Homo sapiens: one gene and its partner. The protein of the gene in region 1 interacts with the protein of each later gene in a biochemical or structural test. Each region holds a gene or a part of one and is shown in the gene's direction. Other genes may lie near its edges.

What was found. Proteins that work in one complex are often made in the same cells at the same time.
Region 2: the proteins of TLK1 (region 1) and OLFM1 form a complex in vitro, tested with the Homo sapiens proteins (one large-scale study listed by BioGRID).

Annotation. Positions count from the first base shown.
Region 1 is NC_000002.12:171,003,821-171,007,467, reverse strand, and holds part of TLK1 (serine/threonine-protein kinase tousled-like 1), read left to right. Parts: intron 1-404; coding exon 405-496; intron 497-578; coding exon 579-668; intron 669-824; coding exon 825-994; intron 995-1,185; coding exon 1,186-1,321; intron 1,322-3,647. UniProt on the Homo sapiens protein: Rapidly and transiently inhibited by phosphorylation following the generation of DNA double-stranded breaks during S-phase. This is cell cycle checkpoint and ATM-pathway dependent and appears to regulate processes involved in chromatin assembly.
Region 2 is NC_000009.12:135,094,030-135,097,676, forward strand, and holds part of OLFM1 (noelin isoform 4 precursor), read left to right. Parts: intron 1-1,834; coding exon 1,835-1,990; intron 1,991-3,647. UniProt on the Homo sapiens protein: Contributes to the regulation of axonal growth in the embryonic and adult central nervous system by inhibiting interactions between RTN4R and LINGO1. Inhibits RTN4R-mediated axon growth cone collapse.

The DNA of each region.
Region 1 (3,647 bases):
GGGTTGCTAGGAAAAGATAGATTTAAAAGGTTTTATCCAACCTACAAAAAAAGTGGTACAGTCATCTGTTTTCCTGGCTGCTTACTACTAGTATAGAGGAATAAGTCCATATTAAAAACAAATAATAGCTTTATTGTTTTATTTTTATTCAGTATATTGGCATTTATAAAATTTAATGTGAAAATTCACATTAAGGTTTTCTCTGATTTATTACCATGGAATTTCTGTCTTCTGATAATAAAAGTGTCATTGAGCTATATATAGTCTTAGCAGAGAAGATCATTAATAATTGTAGGGTTTGTCCTAATTCCATATTATTGCAAAAATTATCACCAAAATAAAAAACATCTCTTCAGCTATTCAATTGGTCTTTCATCTTAATTGTTTTTGACTTGAAATCCTAGGCTTTTGACCTTTATGAACAAAGATATGCTGCTGTGAAGATACATCAGCTTAATAAAAGCTGGAGAGATGAGAAGAAAGAAAACTACCACAAGTAAATACTAATACTTTATGGTTTTTTAAAATTGAATATTTTTTGAATGATCATGGAGAATTAATACACTGTCTTCTCATAGACATGCCTGCAGAGAGTATAGAATACACAAAGAACTGGATCACCCCAGAATAGTTAAACTCTATGATTATTTCTCCTTGGATACAGATACGTAAGTGAATATTAAGGTTCAATTTTTAAGGAAAGATATGCTTGCTTTCTCTTTCCCCATCCTGTGTTGATGATATAAATACTCTCCATTTCCCCATTGTGATTCTGAATTCTTGGATATTACTTATGTCTAATTTTTTTCTCTTCTCTGTTGTAGGTTTTGTACAGTGTTAGAATACTGTGAAGGCAATGACTTGGATTTCTATCTGAAGCAACACAAGTTAATGTCAGAGAAAGAAGCTCGGTCTATTGTAATGCAGATTGTAAATGCACTAAGATATCTCAATGAGATCAAACCCCCTATTATACATTATGATCTTAAGCCAGGTAATTATGAAATTTGTCTAATTTTTTTTAAACTTGAGTATAGTTTTTAAAAGTCATTCATTAAGTTATCTGAAAACATGTTTTTTGGTTTCTCTTGTAAGACATCAGTAAAATACTAGTAAAATTAAAAGTTATTAAAGTTATGTTTTTCATGTATGTATCATTAAAAGAATCTTATATTTTATTCTTAGGAAACATCCTACTGGTAGATGGAACAGCATGTGGTGAAATCAAAATCACTGATTTTGGTCTGTCCAAGATTATGGATGATGATAGCTATGGTGTAGATGGAATGGATCTAACTTCCCAGGGGGCAGGCACTTACTGGTAAGTGTATTACTAAAAACATCAGAATGTCTAGATTGGTGCCCAGTGCTTTTATAATAATTTAGTGTTTTTTTTTTTATTTCCATGTAGCCATTAAGATTACTGTGGTAAAGGTACTGATATTAAGCTCTCAGTTGAGAGGGAGACTTCTGTGGTCATTCCTCTTTTCTCATCTGTTCTTAACTGCAAATAACAGCATACTGGAGAGAGAATGACCTGGCATTAACAAGTGACTTCAGTACCTGCCAGTCAGAAACTCCTAACAGGAAGAATTCATTCATGGGTTTTCTTCTACAATGTTAGCGTGATGTTCATCATAAATATAAATACTTATGTTAATATAATATTTTAACTATTGCAAGCAAAAACTGCAAGCATCAAGCCCTCTCTGTGGAGGTTATATGGTTGCAGGAATTTTCATTTTATTTTGAGACAGGGTCTTGCCCTGTGCAGTGGTGTAATCTTAGTTCATTGCAGCCTCAAACTCCTAGGCTCAAGCGATCTGCCCACTTACTCTTGAGTAACTGAGACCACAGGTACGCACCACTATGCCCAGCTAATCTAAACTTTTTGTAGAGACCAGGTCTTAATTTGTTGCCCAGGCTGGTCTTGAACTCCTGGTATCAAGTGATCTGCCTCTCCCAAAGTGCTTGGATTACAGGCGTGAGCCACTGCACCTGGCTGGTGGTTTTTGTGGAAGATGGATGTTTTGTTGGCTGTGAATGGGAGATAAATTTGGCATATTCTTTGGACTTGACTTTCAGAAATCCCTTTTAAAGACTTGATATGTCTAGATTTAAATTTAGATATAATCACAGATTCATAGATATAAATCTAAATGACTGTCATCCCCTCAGTATACCTACGTGTTCACAAAAACTACTTCAGTGTGAATTTTCAAACTTGTTAAATTCACCAAAGTGGAGAACATAAACTATAAAATTTCAAAACAAACTTAGTTCTCAGAGAAAATTAGTTTAGCATAAAGAGTGACATTTTAATGGAAGAAAGATAACTGCGTTCAACTTCATTGAAACAGGATTGTGACTACAAACATAAATGTGACTTCAGGTTTTCCAGAACAGTATTCACACAAACTGAGCACATCATAACCACTTACACACGATGCCACTGTCTGTATAGATTTCACTTTTAATGAGCAGGGATTAGTCATATTCATGTATTCTTTTAAAGCCACTTTCAAATTTTAAATTTGGCTTGTGGCATTTCCTAGGAACATGGATAAGATAATAATGTCATGAATTTTTTCTTCATATTTTAAGAAAACTATTCAAACTGGTAACCCCCTGAAAGTCAATATTCTCAAAGTCTTTGGACTTTTTTCTTTTAGCAACAAGGCTCATTTTTTTTTTTAACAACAAAATCTTATTCTAATAAAACCAACAAAAACAAAGCATCTTGGTAGAATCTTAGATTCCATGGAAGATAGCTTGAAAACCATGTTCTAAACAATAAATTATTCTTCGTCTGCAGGACATTCTCATTATTTGTTTCTCTCTCACTCTGGCTTCACTAGTATAGGGAAGGACAAGGAAATTTCCCTTTTACAGATGTTCGAGGGACAAAGAGCTTATGTTTCAGGGGCTGTACTGGAAGGAGATACAATAATGGCATTGTTCTATAGGAACATGGAATGTATTTCTCATGGAAATCTGTGGTCCAAAAATTGGTTTATGTCTACAGTCATATTAGTTGTTTAGCTATGTACAGCTGACCTTGAATAATATAGGTTTGAAATGCATGGGTCCACTTTTATGTGGCTTTTTTTTTTCCGATAAATACATTGGAAAATTTTTTGGAGATTTGCAACAATTTGAAAAATCTCACTGACGAACCATGTAGCCTAGAAATATTGAAAAAATTGGCTGGACACGGTGGCTCACGCCTGTAATCCAAGCATTCTGAGAGGCTGAGGCGGGCGGATCACTTGAGGTCAGGAGTTCGAGACCAGCCTGGCCAACGTGGTGAAACCTCGTCTCTGCTAAAAATACTAAAAGTACAAAAGTTAGCTGGGCATGGTGGCCATGCCTGGAATCCCAGCTACTTGGGAGGCTGAGGCAGGGGAATTGTTTGAATCCAGGAGGCAGAGGTTGCAGTGAGCTGAGATCATACCACTGCACTCCTGCCTGGGCGACAGAGCAAGACTCCGTCTCGAAAAAAAAAATACTGAAAAAATTAAGAAAAAGGTATGTCACGAAGGCGTGAAATATATGTAGATACTTGTCTGTTTTACCATTTACTGCCATAAAATGTACACAAATCTATTACAAGAAGTTAAAATTTATCAAAACGTATACAAACACAG
Region 2 (3,647 bases), on another chromosome or scaffold:
GACTGAGGCCAGCATGAGCTCAGCAGCTTCTCCTCGGCACTTGTGGGCCTTCGCTCCTGGGGATTTTGCCAGGAGGGGAATGGAGAGAGGGGTCTGGACTGGCGCCGCCATTTGTATTGTTGCTTCCTCCGGCCATGTGGCTGCAGGAGCTACTCCCGTGCACTAGATTTACTGGACTTTGTGCAGGGGTTACAGATGTGGATGAGACCCAGTGTCACTCCCCCCATGAGCATCCTGTCCGGAAAGCTGTGGGGGGACAGCTGTGTGGCTCACTCCTAGGCAGACATTGTGCCAACAAAGTGACGTTGTTGTTTCCAAATAGTTTGCAGCTAGTTTTAACTCAGTCCATCAGAGAAGCCTCCCTGGAGGAGGTGGCATTTGGGCTGGGCCTTGAAGGACGAATATAGACAAACTTTACATCTTTTCTTGAAAAAGGTGCTGTAGTTATTCAAAGTGACAGAGGAAGACAACAAGAGAATCAGGCAGGTGGTATTAGAGGTATGCTTCCGTTTCTCGGGGAAGAGAAGGGGTGAGAGGGAGCTGAAGCCACCCCGTCGTGTACTTTACAAACTTAAAATTTCAAGATGAGTTTGTGTGTGTTACTTTCTGATAACAAGATATGAAATTCCTTGCATTTTGGGGTGCTGAGATTGGCAATAGTGGTTTTCCTTCTACTGAGGAGGCTTGGTTTGCTCTCTTGTATTTTACTTTATTTGGCGGGGTGGAGGATGTATAGTAAGAAGTAGAAACCACACTGTCCTCTTTTCACACTGACCGGCAAAGCTAAGCCTCATCCCCAAATGATTTTGTTCCTAGAAGGGAGAGTATTTTCAAATTCAGCAGAAAAGTCAGGAGTGAAGATTTGCTGTCATGGAGGTAACTTCCTCTCTAGTAATTGGATTAGATTCTGAGAAAATGACCCAAACACCACTGCAGCAATCCTCAGCTTCCTCCCGCCTCCCCGCAGCCCCGAATGCATTTGCACAGAAGCACACACCAGTTTCCTGCAAATAAAATGCACTGGCAGGTGGCTGCACTAAAACTGTTTTTCTTTTAAGCTCCCTGGAATCCTGTTGAATATTAAAGTTCCATCTTGAGGCTAGACTCAATTCAGATCTGCCTGTAAAGATGTAAAACAGCGATTCTTCATTTGCTGGGTGATTGATTCCTGACTCTATGCTCAGAATGTACATGTTTGCAGAGCAGTCATCTACCTATGATACTGTGGGGTGTGATGGATGGCATAGCAGATAGGGAAAAAAGCTTGATGCAGAGTCAGGGAGAGCAGCTCCCTTGTTCCTTCACTCTGCACTTAAGTAATCAACCTTATCAGCAAGACAGTCAATGAGATTTAGGAAGAAGGAGAATTTATACCTGGGGGCGGGGCAGCCTAAGAGTGCCATTCCTCTCTGCTGGTGTTTATGCTTGCCTAACTAATGTTGTCCTGCAACAGAAAGACTAGGAACAATCCCCACCCACCACTACCAAAAAAAAAAAAAAAAGAGAGAGAGAGAGATCAAGAGAAATCACCCAGCCTGTGCCTGGAGCTACAGCGAATAACGGAACTTGAGTCTCCTACACCCCTGATTTGCATCCCTGATGATAAGAACAGGTTGGCAAAGAAAATGTTTACCCAACCAATTTGCTGTGTTTGGGGAGTTATCAGTCCTCACAGTCCGCGATGCTGGCGATTACCTTGTAAATAATGCATGGGCCACTTCTGGTTCCCAGTGTGCTGGCTGTGTGGGAAAGGGCAATGTCTGTACGAGCAGGCAGAGAAGATTGCCTGGCACCTACTGCGGCTGTTTTGCTGAACCTGTTGCCCTTTTGACAGGTGCAGAACATGTCTCAATCCATAGAGGTCTTGGACAGGCGGACCCAGAGAGACTTGCAGTACGTGGAGAAGATGGAGAACCAAATGAAAGGACTGGAGTCCAAGTTCAAACAGGTGGAGGAGAGTCATAAGCAACACCTGGCCAGGCAGTTTAAGGTATGCATGTTCCTCCCCCTCTCCCTCCCCTTATCCTCCTCCTCCTCCTCTTCCTCCTCCTTCCCCTCCCTCCTCTCCTCCTTCTCTTCTTCCTCCTCCTCTTCTCCTCCTCTTGCTCCTCCTCCCTTCATCCTCCTCTTCCTCCTCCCTCTCCTTCTTCTCCTCCTCTTCCTCCTCCTCCCCCTCTTCATCCTCCTCTTCCTCCTCCCTCTCCTTCTTCTCCTCCTCTTCCTCCTCCCTCTCCTTCTTCTCCTCCTCTTCCCCCTCATCCTCTTCATCCTCCTTTTCCTCCTCCCTCTCCTTCTTCTCCTCCTCTTCCTCCTCCCTCTCCTTCTTCTCCTCCTCTGAGGCTGGGTGTGCTTTCCCTTCATGCTCTCCCTTTCCCTACAGAAATGGTCATTTGGGGCAGGGAGAAGCATAGCAAAGGTTGTTCTGTGCCTTGAAAGGACTGTTGCCCTTGGCAGTAGGGAGGCCACCACTGGCCCTGGCTTGGCAGAAGCCACCTTGACAGGGGCGGCCTGAGTGGTGGCAGCAGCATACACTCGCCCCCAAGCCCCCGTCAGTGTGGTTTGGAAGCCAGGGGTCTGAGATCCTGCGCTGCCCGAGCCAAGTCGAATATTAGCTGGGAAGGGACATCGTTATTGGCCCTTGTCATTCTGCAGCTGCTGCAGGTAAATCACATTAGCCAAAGATTAGCTGAATTGATGAGGGCCATTCTGGAGCAGGAATCTCTCAGGGCAGTTTTCACATCTGACCTAATCTAGCCATGACAAAGCATACCATAGACTTGCAGGGAAAAAAGAGAGAGATGCCAGCCTCCTTTCCACCTCGTGGGAAGTGTTCTGCTTCTCCGGGTAACTCTGGACATTAAAACTGGTGTTTGTTTGACCTAAAATCATAGATACAGATGTGCAGCCAGGTAGAGAGATGCCCACAGTTGACTCCATCTCAGTGCGATTCGACTGAAACGTTATATGCCGCCTTAATGAAGGTATACATGCATTTTAATTAGAAATCCAGCCCAGATGTAAATGAACAGGTCAAATTACACAGCCTCGCCCGACTAGAAACTGCTGGTGTACTCTGTCTCTGTCTTCCCGTCCTTTTTATGCTAATGTTTTTCTTCGATGTGCTCCCTGCATGAGGCAAGAACTAATTCTCTTTTAAAAATGATACATTAAATAGATGAAATGGCAAGCTAATGAAATTATAAATCTATATTATAAATAAAATAATAGCAGGCCCAATCCTGTTGAGGTGAAATGAGCCGATTGTGCTCATCAGAGGCAGTTGGACATTTTTGTCCTCGCATCTGGCTGGTCATCATGAATTACTCTGGAGGGAGAGATGTTGACCTGTCTAACCAAAAAAGCATTTATGTCTCTGAGCCAGCACTCCCTTCTCTGCGGCCAGCAGACTCCTCTAACGAGGGGGGTGTCTTCAGCAACTGGGAGGTAGCTCATCTTGGCAAACGTTGTTGACACAGGCATCTCTCCGAGTTTCCAATTTTGGGGTGCTGTGGCTCTGGGGGAAGAAAAGCAAGCGCTTGCCTATACTGTGCTAAACCGCATTAAAAAAATTCCAACAGAAATTGTGACGAGGGAATCTCAATAACTCTTAAAGCAGTTTGTTTTGACTAACTCGAGCATTACAGTGG